Regions from separate parts of the Homo sapiens genome. Here regions 2, 3 and 4 are each reported to be linked to region 1. The links are microRNA targets in miRTarBase. Many come from high-throughput screens and were not tested one by one. Region 1 holds a microRNA gene; each other region holds the end of a gene's coding sequence.

The links. Region 1 holds the annotated microRNA hsa-miR-30b-3p (CUGGGAGGUGGAUGUUUACUUC, at 1,683-1,704, opposite strand). A microRNA usually pairs through its seed, bases 2 to 8, with sites in the 3' UTR of a target mRNA and lowers its output. Matches are read on the target gene's strand: a 7mer-m8 pairs with bases 2 to 8, a 7mer-A1 pairs with bases 2 to 7 and ends in A, and an 8mer does both.
Region 2: miRTarBase lists C19orf47 as a target of hsa-miR-30b-3p. Seed matches in the 3' UTR shown: 7mer-m8 at 2,527-2,533, 7mer-A1 at 2,327-2,333 and 7mer-m8 at 2,029-2,035.
Region 3: the mRNA of CRPPA is a reported target of hsa-miR-30b-3p. Seed matches in the 3' UTR shown: 8mer at 1,466-1,473.
Region 4: the mRNA of RAB2B is a reported target of hsa-miR-30b-3p. Seed matches in the 3' UTR shown: 8mer at 1,766-1,773 and 7mer-m8 at 741-747.

Annotation. Positions count from the first base shown.
Region 1 is chr8:134,798,850-134,801,953 of GRCh38, forward strand. It overlaps MIR30B (microRNA 30b), which reads right to left and starts at 1,758; the gene lies at 1,671-1,758. It also overlaps a transcript of ZFAT not described here.
Region 2 is chr19:40,319,271-40,322,374 of GRCh38, forward strand. It overlaps C19orf47 (chromosome 19 open reading frame 47), which reads right to left. Exons shown (of 9, transcript NM_001256441.2): 9 at 266-3,104. The coding sequence ends at 2,612. Among named protein-coding and RNA genes, the nearest start is that of C19orf47, 28 kb to the right of the region's middle.
Region 3 is chr7:16,088,995-16,092,098 of GRCh38, forward strand. CRPPA (CDP-L-ribitol pyrophosphorylase A) reads right to left here. Exons shown (of 10, transcript NM_001101426.4): 10 at 1-2,805. The coding sequence ends at 2,701. Among named protein-coding and RNA genes, the nearest start is that of CRPPA-AS1, 120 kb to the right of the region's middle. RefSeq lists a silencer at 2,777-2,977.
Region 4 is chr14:21,458,578-21,461,681 of GRCh38, forward strand. RAB2B (RAB2B, member RAS oncogene family) reads right to left here. Exons shown (of 8, transcript NM_032846.4): 8 at 443-2,726. The coding sequence ends at 2,619. All of the region lies in intron 1 of LOC124903283 (a long non-coding RNA gene), which reads left to right. Among named protein-coding and RNA genes, the nearest start is that of CHD8, 4.0 kb to the left of the region's middle.

The DNA of each region.
Region 1 (3,104 bases):
TATATTTTATGCACTGAGGTTCAAAAACAAATTGATGGGCAATTCCCAAATATGCTTAATTTGGGAGAAAAACACTTCATAAAACTACCTTTACATTATATGCTTTGTAATGCATTGCAATATGTTTCTCAAAGTACTATAAATTATAAAATAATGTAAAAATTTGGCAAGTTTCAAATTAACATGTGGAGCTCACTAAAACATAGTATGCTATGCACCTAAGTACAGAATAAAACAGCTCTCTCGTAATGACAAAGAAAATTAACAAATTATTCATTAAACAAATAAAATATATAATTAGAAAAACAGCACTCACCTTCAACAAGTCTCCATGCTTTCATTTCACATTTTTATTTAATCATGTATTTCTCATAACATTTAGACATCTTCCACAGGAGCACCAAGCATGAATTCTAATTCTGGATTTAGGCACAGGCAAGAGCATACAGACACTTGCCAAGCTGCTAGGATGTGTGTACTTCTTACATAATTTTCGTTTTATACTTGTTTGTTTTGCTTTTCACCTATACAGAATGTGGATGTATCACCAAAAAAAGAAAAGGCAGGCTGATTTCATGGAACTGAAAAACAAAGCTATAAAAAATTAATTTTCAGTATTTTAAGTAAAGACATGAAAATGGAAATAACGTTTAGACCAATCAGTACATATATAGAACTAATTATCAGGTATTAGCTTATTTTTAAATTGTTACCTCATTTAGTCTCAACAATCCTATCAGGTAGGTGCTATTATAATTTCAATTTAGTCGACTGAGGAAACTGAGGCACAGAGAGATTAATAACTTCCCCCAAAGTAACATAGCGAAGTAACTCGCAGAATCAAGATATGAGCTCCAGAAGCTGGGATTCAAAATTCTTTGCCACTATATTACAACAATATCAAAGATTCAAAGCATTTCCATTAAACCAAAAAGTTGGCATCATCTTTATTGCAAAAATAAAAACAAGTTATGTCTGCTTTAAGCATTATGGCAACTATTTACTGAACACCTACAACACAGCATTAATAATAACTAGCATTTATTGAGTACTTAATATGACAGGTACTGTACTAATGAACAACTTTATATTCATCATGTAAGTCAATCCATGCAATCACATACTTATTTTACAGATGAGAAAACCACTGAGGTATGGAAACAGTGCCTTTCCCTCCTCCAAATCCCGTAGCAAATTCACTTGTGGAGTCCAGATGGCAACAAATGTCTGATGTCAAAGCCCATGCTTGTTAAAGCACACTGCAATACTACAAACCCGACCCCAACTACCAAACAAGGGCATTCTTTTGTCCCAATACCCAGAGCCTTATGTCATGTTAGTGCTATAGCAAAATTGAAAAGATACAATAAAAATTTAAATTGAGTAACAAATTTAAAGGAATTTTAATAAATTTAGAGTAATTTTTCCTCTATAAGCATACTGTTTTTCTGTTTTAACTACTCCTACTGCAACCATGCTTTCTTCTGCTTTTCTCTGCAAACATATTCAAGTAGATCCCTGCCAGCTAGACAATTAACACACTTTTTCTCTGGGAGAACAAAATGGTCTCACATTTCCAACAAACCTTTAATTACATTAATTACATTAAAAATTCAAGCCTCTGTATACTATTCTTGCCAAATCTTTTATCAATGTTAATTGGTTGACATTCCAAGTCAGCTGAAGTAAACATCCACCTCCCAGCCAATCCATGTATTACAGCTGAGTGTAGGATGTTTACATGAACTGAAACTTGGTTTAAAGCAGGACTTAAACTCTTTACTAAGTTTGTACGGTTCTTTACGTAAGACTCTGTTGAAAAAAAGAACAGGCACAGCATTCACATAAATGAGGCAAGACTCAATCGGAAAGATATCCTGAGAGAAAGTGTAGAATCCAAGGAAAAGGCAGAAGTGAGTTGGGTGTTTGTTTTTTTGGAAGTGGGGGCGTGTCCAGGGCAGTGGGGGGCACTACAGGCACGCTACTATGCCCGGCTAATTTTTCTTATTAATAAAATTTTTTTTAGAGACAAGGTCTCACTATATTGCCCAGGCTAGTCACAAACAAGTGATAACGTTTTTCACCAAAGGAATTTACAACAATAAATGCCGACATCCTGTAGTGTTCCATATCTAAATGTAGCTGATTATCCAGCCTTCCTATATCCTTCCCTTCAAAACAATCAAACTTGCATTTATAAGAACTTACTTGATGACCAGTATGATGCATCAACCAATCTTCATTAAGAAGATTCCTCCTTTAGGTAAAAGACAGTTAATGAAACACTGTGAGGAGCTTAGTCATCTCTCCTCCCCCTCAACCCTCTCCTCATCTTCTCCCCCACATTCAGAATTCAGATAATTTCATCTCAGGCACATCTTTCCCACACTCTGATCTCTTTCCACCTTCTACTGTTCCCAGTGTCATTAAGGTGTCTCAAAGAAATGTCTCCCCCTCTTTTTGCATTCTTTCTGATTAAAAATATATTCCCACAAATATCTCCACTAACTATTATCAGTGGTCCTACCAACACACTTGCATCAAAGAAGAGGAAATCTTCAAATTTGGAAGTAAAACTACATATAATAACCACTGCCAGCAAACTTTAAAAATCTTTGGCATTTCACAGGTAACCCAGGACTTTCAGGAACCTCGCCAGTCTCTACCTAGTCTCTTGTCCCTTCGGGCTGTTTTCCAAAAGCATTGGTTCTCAAGATTAAATACACATATACCTCCCCGCCACCCCACTCTACAACCATACTGCTTTTCTGTTTTAACTACTTCTATTACAACCGTATTTTTTTCTTCTGCTTTTCTCTGAAAACACATTCAAATAGGCCCCTCCCAGCTAGACAATTAATATACTTTTTCTCTGGGAGAAAAAATGGTCTCACATTTTCAACAAACCTTTTTATAATCAAACTTCTGGATTAATACATGTTTTTAAGTTAAGGATTTTTCTGTTTTACTTCATGTATTAATTGGGCATAATATCTAGCAGGAAAAGAATGTAAGATGAGCTCTGTGATTCTGAAAGCATGGGCCTAGAGGAGCAGCATCAGCAGTACTTGGGAACTGTGGGGGGAAAAGCACATTCTTATGTT
Region 2 (3,104 bases), not on the chromosome of region 1:
AAAAAAAAAATAAACAATAAAAATAAAATAAAATGGTTAAAATTGTAAATTTCACGAGGTATATTTTCACACAATGAAAATAAATAAATAAACGGATGAGATCTAGTCTCATCTTTACCTGCTCTCTCATTAATTCTCCTCCAACCCCCTGACCTCTCCTAGGCTGTCTCTTTTTGTCAGTTCCTGTTCTCTAAACAGGGAAAGGGCCCCAGATTCCCTCCAATCTCTATGATCCCTTTCCAGCTGGTATTACCAGGCCCTTGGCTTTTTTTTTTTTTTTTTTTGAGATGGAGTCTCGCTCTTGTTGCCTAGGCTGGAGTGCAGTGGCACGATCTCAGCTCACTGCAACCTCCACCTCCCGGGTTCAAGCGATCCTCCTGCCTCAGCCTCCTAAGTAGCCGGGATTACAGGCACCTGTCACCACACCCGGCTAATTTTTGTATTTTTAGTAGAGACGGGGTTTCACCATCTTGGCCAGGCTGGTCTCGAACTCCTGACCTTGTGATCCACCCGCCTTGGCCTCCCAAACTGCTGGGATTACAAGCGTAAGCCACCACGCCCAGCCAAGGCCCTTGGCTTTGATTCCAGCTGTACCCTGCGCACTGTCAGCAGCCATGAACCCCCAGCCCAGGTGTCCGCCTGAGCCCCAGCGGGGACCCTAACAGGCGCAATGCAGTCAGAACACAGCTCCCTCTTCCTTGACCTTCCTCCCGTCTCCCCTTCTCTGTTAACAGCCGTTCCCCCAGATGCTCCGGTCTAACATCTAGGCGGGCCCTATGATTCTCATCTTCTCTAGCCCCAACTTCCAACCCATCAGCACATCCCACAGCTCTTCCTCCAAAGCACACCCTAAGCAGCCCAAGCGGCCCTCTTCCCTGCTCCCCACTGCCATGCCCTCGCAGCCATCCTGGCTTCCTGCCTGGACTGCTGCAGTGGCATCCACCCCAGCCCTCCCAGCCATTCCTTCTCCTCACAGAAGCCAGAGCGATGATCCTAAATGAAACTCAGCTCAGCACATCCCAGCTCCAAATCCTCCCGATCCAGCACTCCCGGGTCACTGTGCACATTCCTCCTCCTTGATCACAACACCCCCAGCCACCTAGCCCCTGCCCACCCACCTCTGCCTCATGCTGGAGGCAGGGCCCACCCTCACCCACAGCCACCAGCCTTCTTCCTGTTCCTTGTCCCACCTCAGCACCTCTGCCCCTGGCTGTCCCTCTGTCTGAAAGCTCTCCTCCTGAACTTCATGAAGCCACATTCCCAACTTGGCCTCCATGTCACCCCTTCTGCAAGGCCTTCCTATCCACAACCACTGAAGCGGCCCTGGCCACTTTCTCCCACTCCTCAGATTCCTTGGCCAGCACCACCGCTTTACCTACACCCCATCCCTGGAGAGGCCCTGCTCACTACCTGCTACCAGCTCCTAGGACAGGCCTGGCTCAGGGGCGCTGTGCAGCAGGGAGGGGTGGGCGACCAAACCAGTGGAAACTCATGGTCTCACAAACGGAGCCCATCATTTGGAAAGGTGCCAGCAGGCAGGTGAAATCCATGGGGGGAGGGGATAGAGTGACAAAACCACTACGGCTTATTGGGGGCAGGGGGCGGCCTAACTGAATGGTGACTGTGGCCATTACTCCCCCTGACTCAGGGCTTGCAGCAGGGACATGGACCATGTGTGTGCAGGAAGCCTGACCTTTAGAGACACAGCCCAATCCTCTGCCACCATCCCCAGCCCAGCTGCGCATAGTGTGAAACAGTCCTGCAACTCACCCTGAAGGAGTGGGGGAAATGATTTGAAAGTCACAAAAATATATTAAAACAGCAGCTGTCTTCACTCTAGGCACTGGCCTCCCTTCCCAGTGCCCCTTGCCCACCACCCGCCATACACTTTCAGAGACAGATGCCCAGGGCAGGAAAACGGATGCGCCTCAGCCGCAGCCCAGGGTCTGGAGAGGTCCCTCCAGCCTGGGAGTAGAGGGCGGCTAACAGTCTCAACAGGCTCGACGCCACCGCCGACGAGGGGGCCGCTGGGAGGCCGGAGGTACAGGAGGGTCGGGCAGGACGCAGCGGACAGTCGGGCCTTGCCACGGGGACAGAAAACAGAAGAGAAATGAACAAAGTGAAGACAGGGAGAGAGAGAAGTCACAGCAGTGGGGGGAGGCGCAGAGGAGTGAGGGAGGTCAGTGGGGAGTGGGGGAAGGGAGGCCCACCAGGTGACACCCACTTAGTTGAGGGGGACAGGGAGGCTGATGAGCTGGGGTCTGAGGCAGCAGACCCTGCTCAGGGGAAGAAGGGGAATGTAGGAGAGGAAGAAGCCCCCTGGCACTTGGGAGAGGTAGAAAAGTGGGTTCTGCCAAGGCCACAGCCAGAGAAGAAAGCACAGAGGACATGAGAGAAGGGGAGTCCTGGAGCAGGCCAGGCCAGCTGCGACGACCATCCCAGGCTAGGAGAAATGGGGTGATCCCCCGAATGCTCGGGCCTAGCTCTAGAGCCCGAGGGAGACAAGCTGTGTCATCCAGGAGCTGGTGGGAGGCGTGATGAAGCCAGGAGCCTGGGGCGGCCAGGGCAGATGCCCGCAGGCTCTGCTGCCTGCACCCCGCCCACAGGTGGGCTAGAAGGTCCTGCGGCCCAGTCTTTTGAACACGCTCACAGTGCCCGCGTGGTCCATCTGGGCACCAAGGCCCTCGCTGGAGCTGCTCCCCCGGGGCCCCACCAGAGTCCTCTTAATGGTGACCTTGACCTCGGCTGAGGACTTACTCTTGGTGCTGGTGACCTGGCTGTCCTGGGCCTCGGGCACAAGGGCAGCTGCGCCCAGTCTCTTGATGATGCTGACTTTAGACAAGGACTCCGGCTTCCTCTCAAGCCCAGACCGTGAGGAAAGCGCCAGGCGCCGCAGTGTCGGGGCAGCAGCCGTTGTCGCTGAGCTTGTGGCCTTGGCTTTGACAGTCAGTGCTGGCTGGGGACTGGCCTTGGCTGGGCCCCGTCCTAGCTTCTTCAGGACCCCGGCATACTGCAAGACAGAGCTGCTGCTGTCATTGTCGCTGTCCCAAGCCAGATCCTCGTCCGTTTCTGGGGTGGCCCCCAGGCGGCTGAAGACTCCTGTG
Region 3 (3,104 bases), not on the chromosome of region 1:
AACACTTATTATCAGTCTTCCTTATTTTAAGCCCAAACTTTTGTTACTATTCAGTCACATGATTTTGGCAAGGTAACTAAGATCCCTGAGCTCCAATTTCCTCATGAAAATAGTGAAGGATGTGCAGATATATATACATATAAAATACATATACATAAAACATAAAAATACATATATACGTACGTATATACATATATGTGTGTATATACGTACGTATATACATATATGTGTGTATGCGTACGTATATACATATATGTGTGTATGCGTACGTATATACATATATGTGTGTATGCGTACGTATATACATATATGTGTGTATGCGTACGTATATAAATATATGTGTGTATGCGTACGTATATACATACATACATGCATGTACATATATACGTATATATGTATGTACATAATGTGTATATATGTACGTACATACATATATGTGTATATATGTACGTGCATACATATATGTGTATATATGTACGTACATATATACGGGTATATATGTACGTACATACATAGATATGGGTATATATGTACGTACATACATATATATGTATATACATGTAAGTATATACATATATATGGGTATACATGCATGTATATACATATATATGGGTATACATACATGTATATGTATGTATGTATTTTTTTTTCCCAATGCTGTGAATTGCTTTGCCTGCTATGAAGGACCAAATGCTATTTTTTCCAGGCACAACTTAATATTTTATTAACTAAATTATACTAAATGTTACCAGTTGCCTAGGGTAATGTCATAGTAAGTACTCTGAGATAAATTCTTGTCTGCTGTAGGATTCCTTAAGCTGAAGTCTATGTTAACTCAGCCAGCACTCCAGCGATCAGGGTGATTTTGCTGTGCCACAAATATGCCCAGTTTACTGCATTCTTCTTCAAGGCACTTACCCTCTCTTTAAAGCCTTGATAACATTTCCCCTTCTTCCTTTATGAGCACTTTCAAAGTCTTAAACATTTTCACCTGATGACTTCAACAGGTGCATGTTGGGGACTTGGCAGCTGTGGTTTTCGTCACACACACAGCCGACATCTGAACAAAGGCACAGACATTCCTAACCACAATCCACACATTGCTTACCTATTTCCATCCTCAAAAACTTAAATTAATGGATTTTAAATTTCTTAATATTCCTAGAGAGAGAAAAAGGGCAGGCCCAGGAATTTAGATACAAGCCTACATTCAAATAACACATTTCAATTAGGAGAATGTAAAATATAAACTCTCCTACTATATATATACTTGAACACTAGAGGGAAAATCACCCAACATGTTAAATAAAAATTCCACAAGGTAGATATTGTATAGTGTATCTTTAACTGAAAACACTTCATGCAACTTTTATAGTTTCCACGTGCAGCCTAAGCCCTAATCTGTTTCAATAAAATAAATGTATGTTGGCTGGGTATGGTGGCTCACACCTATAATCCCAGCATTTTGGGAGGCCGAGGCAGGCAGATCACTTGAGGTCAGGAGTTCAAGACCAGCCTGGCCTACATGGCGAAAACCCTTCTCTACTAAAAATACAAAAAAAAAAAAAAAAAAAAAAAATTAGCCAGGTGTGGTGGCAGGTGCCTGTAATCCCAGCTACTCGGGAGGCTGAGGGAGGATAATTGCTTAAACCCAGGAGGCAGAGGTTGCAGTCAGCTGAGATTGTGCCACTGCACTCCAGCCTGACAGAGGGCGACTGCATTTCAAAACAATAAAAAATAAAATAAATAGAGTAAGTGTATGTATAGATTAAAAGTCACCTCTAATGAATTAAAGGACACCCATAATTATAACATGCAAGGGAAAATATTAATATTTCAGATGTATATACCAATGAAAACTGGAAATAAGAACTTGATTTTAAAAGGTAGCAGTATCTGAATTGAAATAACTAATTTAACTCTATGATGTACAATAGATTCTCTACCTTATAGAAGATAACTAACCAGGGATTGACCAGAATCACCTACGAAACTTTCCAGACACTTTTAAGTTCATTCAGAAAAACTAGAGACCCTTTAAAATAATGTAAGTCATAATTATAGTTCATAAACCAAAAATAACATACAATTTAAAAACAGAAAAGAAGGAAATGACATCTGTTTTAGGGATCTTGAGTAATATGTGGCAAATGGGGAAAATGCTAGAAACAAACAGTTCCGTTCCCTGGTATCCCACTCACCCTTTTTTATTAAAGTGTAGACATTTTTAACACAAGACAAAAAGACAAAATATCACCTGGTGACAGGACAATTATAGAAGTGAGAATAATTCTGAAGTTTATCCATTAGCTTCATAATAGTGTAAATTATTAATTAACAGTTAGGATAATAACTGAAGTTTTCTAAATTCTCATTCCTTGAAAGAATAGCTCACCCCATCATTATTTCTATTTGACCGTTCATGTCTCTGTGGAAAGATTCATTTGAAGGCTATTATTTTCCACTTATCTACTATTTTTTTCTGGTTCAGGCAATTAATATTTGTCATACACAAAAGTATTCTTTATTTCACAGATATAAACATTAATCTGCTTTATAATCTAAGCATCACATCCTACAAATTATAGAGAAGATATAAAAGACAACTGAAACATTCTACCACACACAGCAGCGGGGGCACAAAGCACAATTAAGATACGCAAATAGATGTTTTAGAAAATAGGTAATTTTTTGTGTTCTTCATGCTATCAGAAGCTGACCAATGAGTCCAGAATTTCTTTCCTTGATTAATGAAGCAATAATGATAGCACCTTGCCTTAAACTCTCCTGTAGCTTCTGATCATCCTGAAAAGAAAGGATAAACCAGTAATATTTTAGAAAAAACATATGCCATGTGTTAAGTTTGATAAAAAGCCACTTTTCAAGATCTGCTGCGGTCTGGATTTGGCATTTTAGAAACTCAGACTCTAGCCACTGTCATGGACACGGTTCCCCGAATAAAGAGGAAATACTTTCACAAACACTTTTCATTATAGACCAAAAAATATTTGCTTAAGATGCAAGGAAAAACACTGACACAATTTCAAATGCTAACAGAAAGAAAAGATTATTTCCCCTTAATCCAATTTCTGACAACCTTTGGC
Region 4 (3,104 bases), not on the chromosome of region 1:
ATTGACTCTGAAAGCAGTAGCTCTAGGCAGAATGCTGTCTTTGACCAATCCTCTAATGCTTCTCAATTGCTAAAGATTGTTTTTTTGGGTAGTAAAAAAAAAAAAAACAAAAAAAAAACCTTCTGTACAGAAACTAGTTTTTATTACTTTAGTTTTCGCCCAGAGGTAAGGGGGCAGGCTAACTCCAAGTTCAACAGCTTCAAATCCTTTTTGGAATCAGATAGGATTTTAAAAACAAAACAAAAGCATAACCAAAGCAATACCCCAAATGTCTTCCAACTTCCTGTGGTGCACTGTCAACTATTACTACTACTACTGGGGTCAGAATCGAGTATAGCATGAATCCCAAAGAGGCTTCTTCATTATCTTTGATTTAATTCCCTGAGAGGAGAGTATCTACTAATGTTTGGGATACAATTAGAAATGACACATGGAGTATGAATAGCTTTGATACATGCATATATTTAATAATGAAACAATTCATCAACAGCAAAAAGAAAGTAGAAAAATTCGTAAGACCTCAGGGCTGTGGAAGAGAACGGGACATCAAGGAAAAAAGATATATATAGCAACCAACCCAGAAGGCTGCATGATGAGTGAAGCAAAGGCAAGTTTGGCTAAGATAGTATTATATGCTCTGAAAAGAGAATGGCTGGATAGGTACCCACTTATGTGACTGCTTACTAGCAGGCAGCCTTACTGTATGCCTCATGGAATGGAGGCAAAAAGCCAGGGAAAGGTGGGAGGGGAGAAGGAAGAGAACTGTATAAAACCCAGGGTAAACAAATGAGTGGGGCAGAATTACAGAGAGAGGACTCTAAAGTCTTTTGTTTCCTTGAAAGTCTAAAATAAACCTTAAGTTTTTAACTATGTCAGTCAAATTCAATGAACACATAATGAGTAGCACTAGGCACTGTAAAGGAATGATAGGGGGAATAATTTATAAAAATAAAGGAATGACATGGATCCTGCTCTCAAGGAGCTTACAACTTATACGGAAAGACAAGATTCCACACAAAAACAACTGCAAACCATATTTACATAGTAACATACATAAAAATAAATATACATATAAATAGACATATGAATAACCAACATATGAAAACTAAGGAATATTGTGTTAATAACTGCTTAGCAGTACCTAAGTCTGTTACTAAAGAAAAAATTTTTGGACTTTTAAGTATAATTAGTGGAGAGTAGGGCATGTGCAAAGGTATGGAACTAGGAATAAATATGTCACATTCAGTAAGTAGATTAGCCTGATTGGAGTAGAAAGTCTAGGTCTAGTTAAGAAGGGAGTTTGATGAAACAGTAGAAGTCTATCTGGTGAAAGACACTACAATGTTAGATCTGGCCCCTAAAATAAAATGAACAGGGAACAAATGTTTTCTTTAGGTAATAATAAGTGGCCACATGTCCCTGACCAACTTCACTGCTCTTAAAAGTTTTGAAGTTACACTAAGAGATAGAAGCTAATAATAGGATAGTAGAGAAGTACTCAGTGCTCTTGGGCAAGTAGAGGAAACTGCCTTCTACAAGAATTCTTAGGAAGTGGCAAGCAGACACCCAAAGGCAAGGAAGAAAAAAACTCAATGAAATTCCGAGGCAGAGGATCTATCAACCAAAGGCCAACTAGATCTAGGTAATTGCAAGTGTTCAAATAGAATGTCTTTGACCCTAATTCTTAGTGGGAAGTGGATTGTATATGCTTACGAAATTATTTATTTAGGCCAGGCACGGTGGCTCACACCTGTAATCCAGCACTTTGGGAGGCCAAGGTGGGCGGATCACGAGGTCAAGAGATCAAGACCATCCTGGCCAACATGGTGAAACCCTGTCTCTACTAAAAATACAAAAATGAGCCAGGTGTGGTGGCACATGCCTGTAGTCCCAGCTACTCGGGAGGTTGAGGCAGGAGAACTGCTTGAACCTGGAAAGTGGAGGTTGCAGTGAGCCAAGATCATGCCACTGCACTCCAGCCTGGAGACAGAGTGAGACTCCATCCCCCCAAAAAAAAAAAAAAAAAAAGAAAAAAAAAATTATTTATTTATTTGAGACAGAGTTTTGCTCTTGTTGCCCAGGCTGCAGTGCAATGGCGTGATCTTGGCTTAGCGTAACCTTCACCTCCTGGGTTCAAGCGATTCTCCTGCCTTGGCCTCCCGAGTACCTGGGATTACAGGCATGCACCACCACACCCAGCTAATTTTGTATTTTCAGTTGAGATGGCATTTCTCCAAGTTGGTCAGGCTGGTCTCGAACTCTTGACCTCAGGTGATCTGCCCACCTTGGCCTCCCAAAGTGCTAGGATTACAGGCATGAGCCATGGCGCCCCGCCATGAAATTATTTTTTAACTACTGTGATAATCAACTTTGATCCTAACAATTTAAGAAATTTGTATAGGAGGATAAGAAGAACCCTAATCTATAGGGAATGCTCATGTCCCTGAAGGAGGACAGGTCAGTAAGGGCCCAAATTCTCTCCTGGTCTTTAGGTGGAAAGGCAAAACATCACACTTTAAAAAGAGGCTGCTCTCAGCCAAAGCAAGAAAGACCTCTTTCATTAAGCCTATTGATCTGAAGCTATTCCAGGAAGGACAAAAAAAGTTCAAGCCAGATGTTCAGCAGCAGCCAGAGTTGGACCCTATGTCACGAGAGTTCCGCTGGGAGGCACTGGGTCCCACTGATGTTGAAATTGACTGTTGGGGCCCAATCTTGATGCCATTTGCCTGTAAAAGAAAAGAGGCAATAGTTCCCACCTCAGTGTTAAAGTGAATGAGAGACAGGAGGGGGCTATCTCTGCTTGTATCCCAGGGTAGAAAGAAAACAGAAAGGGGAGAAAGGAGAAATCATTAATTATATTTTCTAAAAGCAGATTTGACCTTGGCAGGTAACCAGATGCCCTAGCCACGCTGATGTGGAACAATAATCTGTGACAGTAAGAATAAGATGACTACCTGTGGTCTAAATATCCTAGTTGACTACAGTGGCTTTTGTGCACTTTTTTTTTCCTTGAGGAAATGAGGTCTCCCTATGTTGCCCAGGCTGCAGTGCAGTGGCTATTCACAGTATGATCAGTGTGCACTATAGCCTCAAACTTCTGGCCT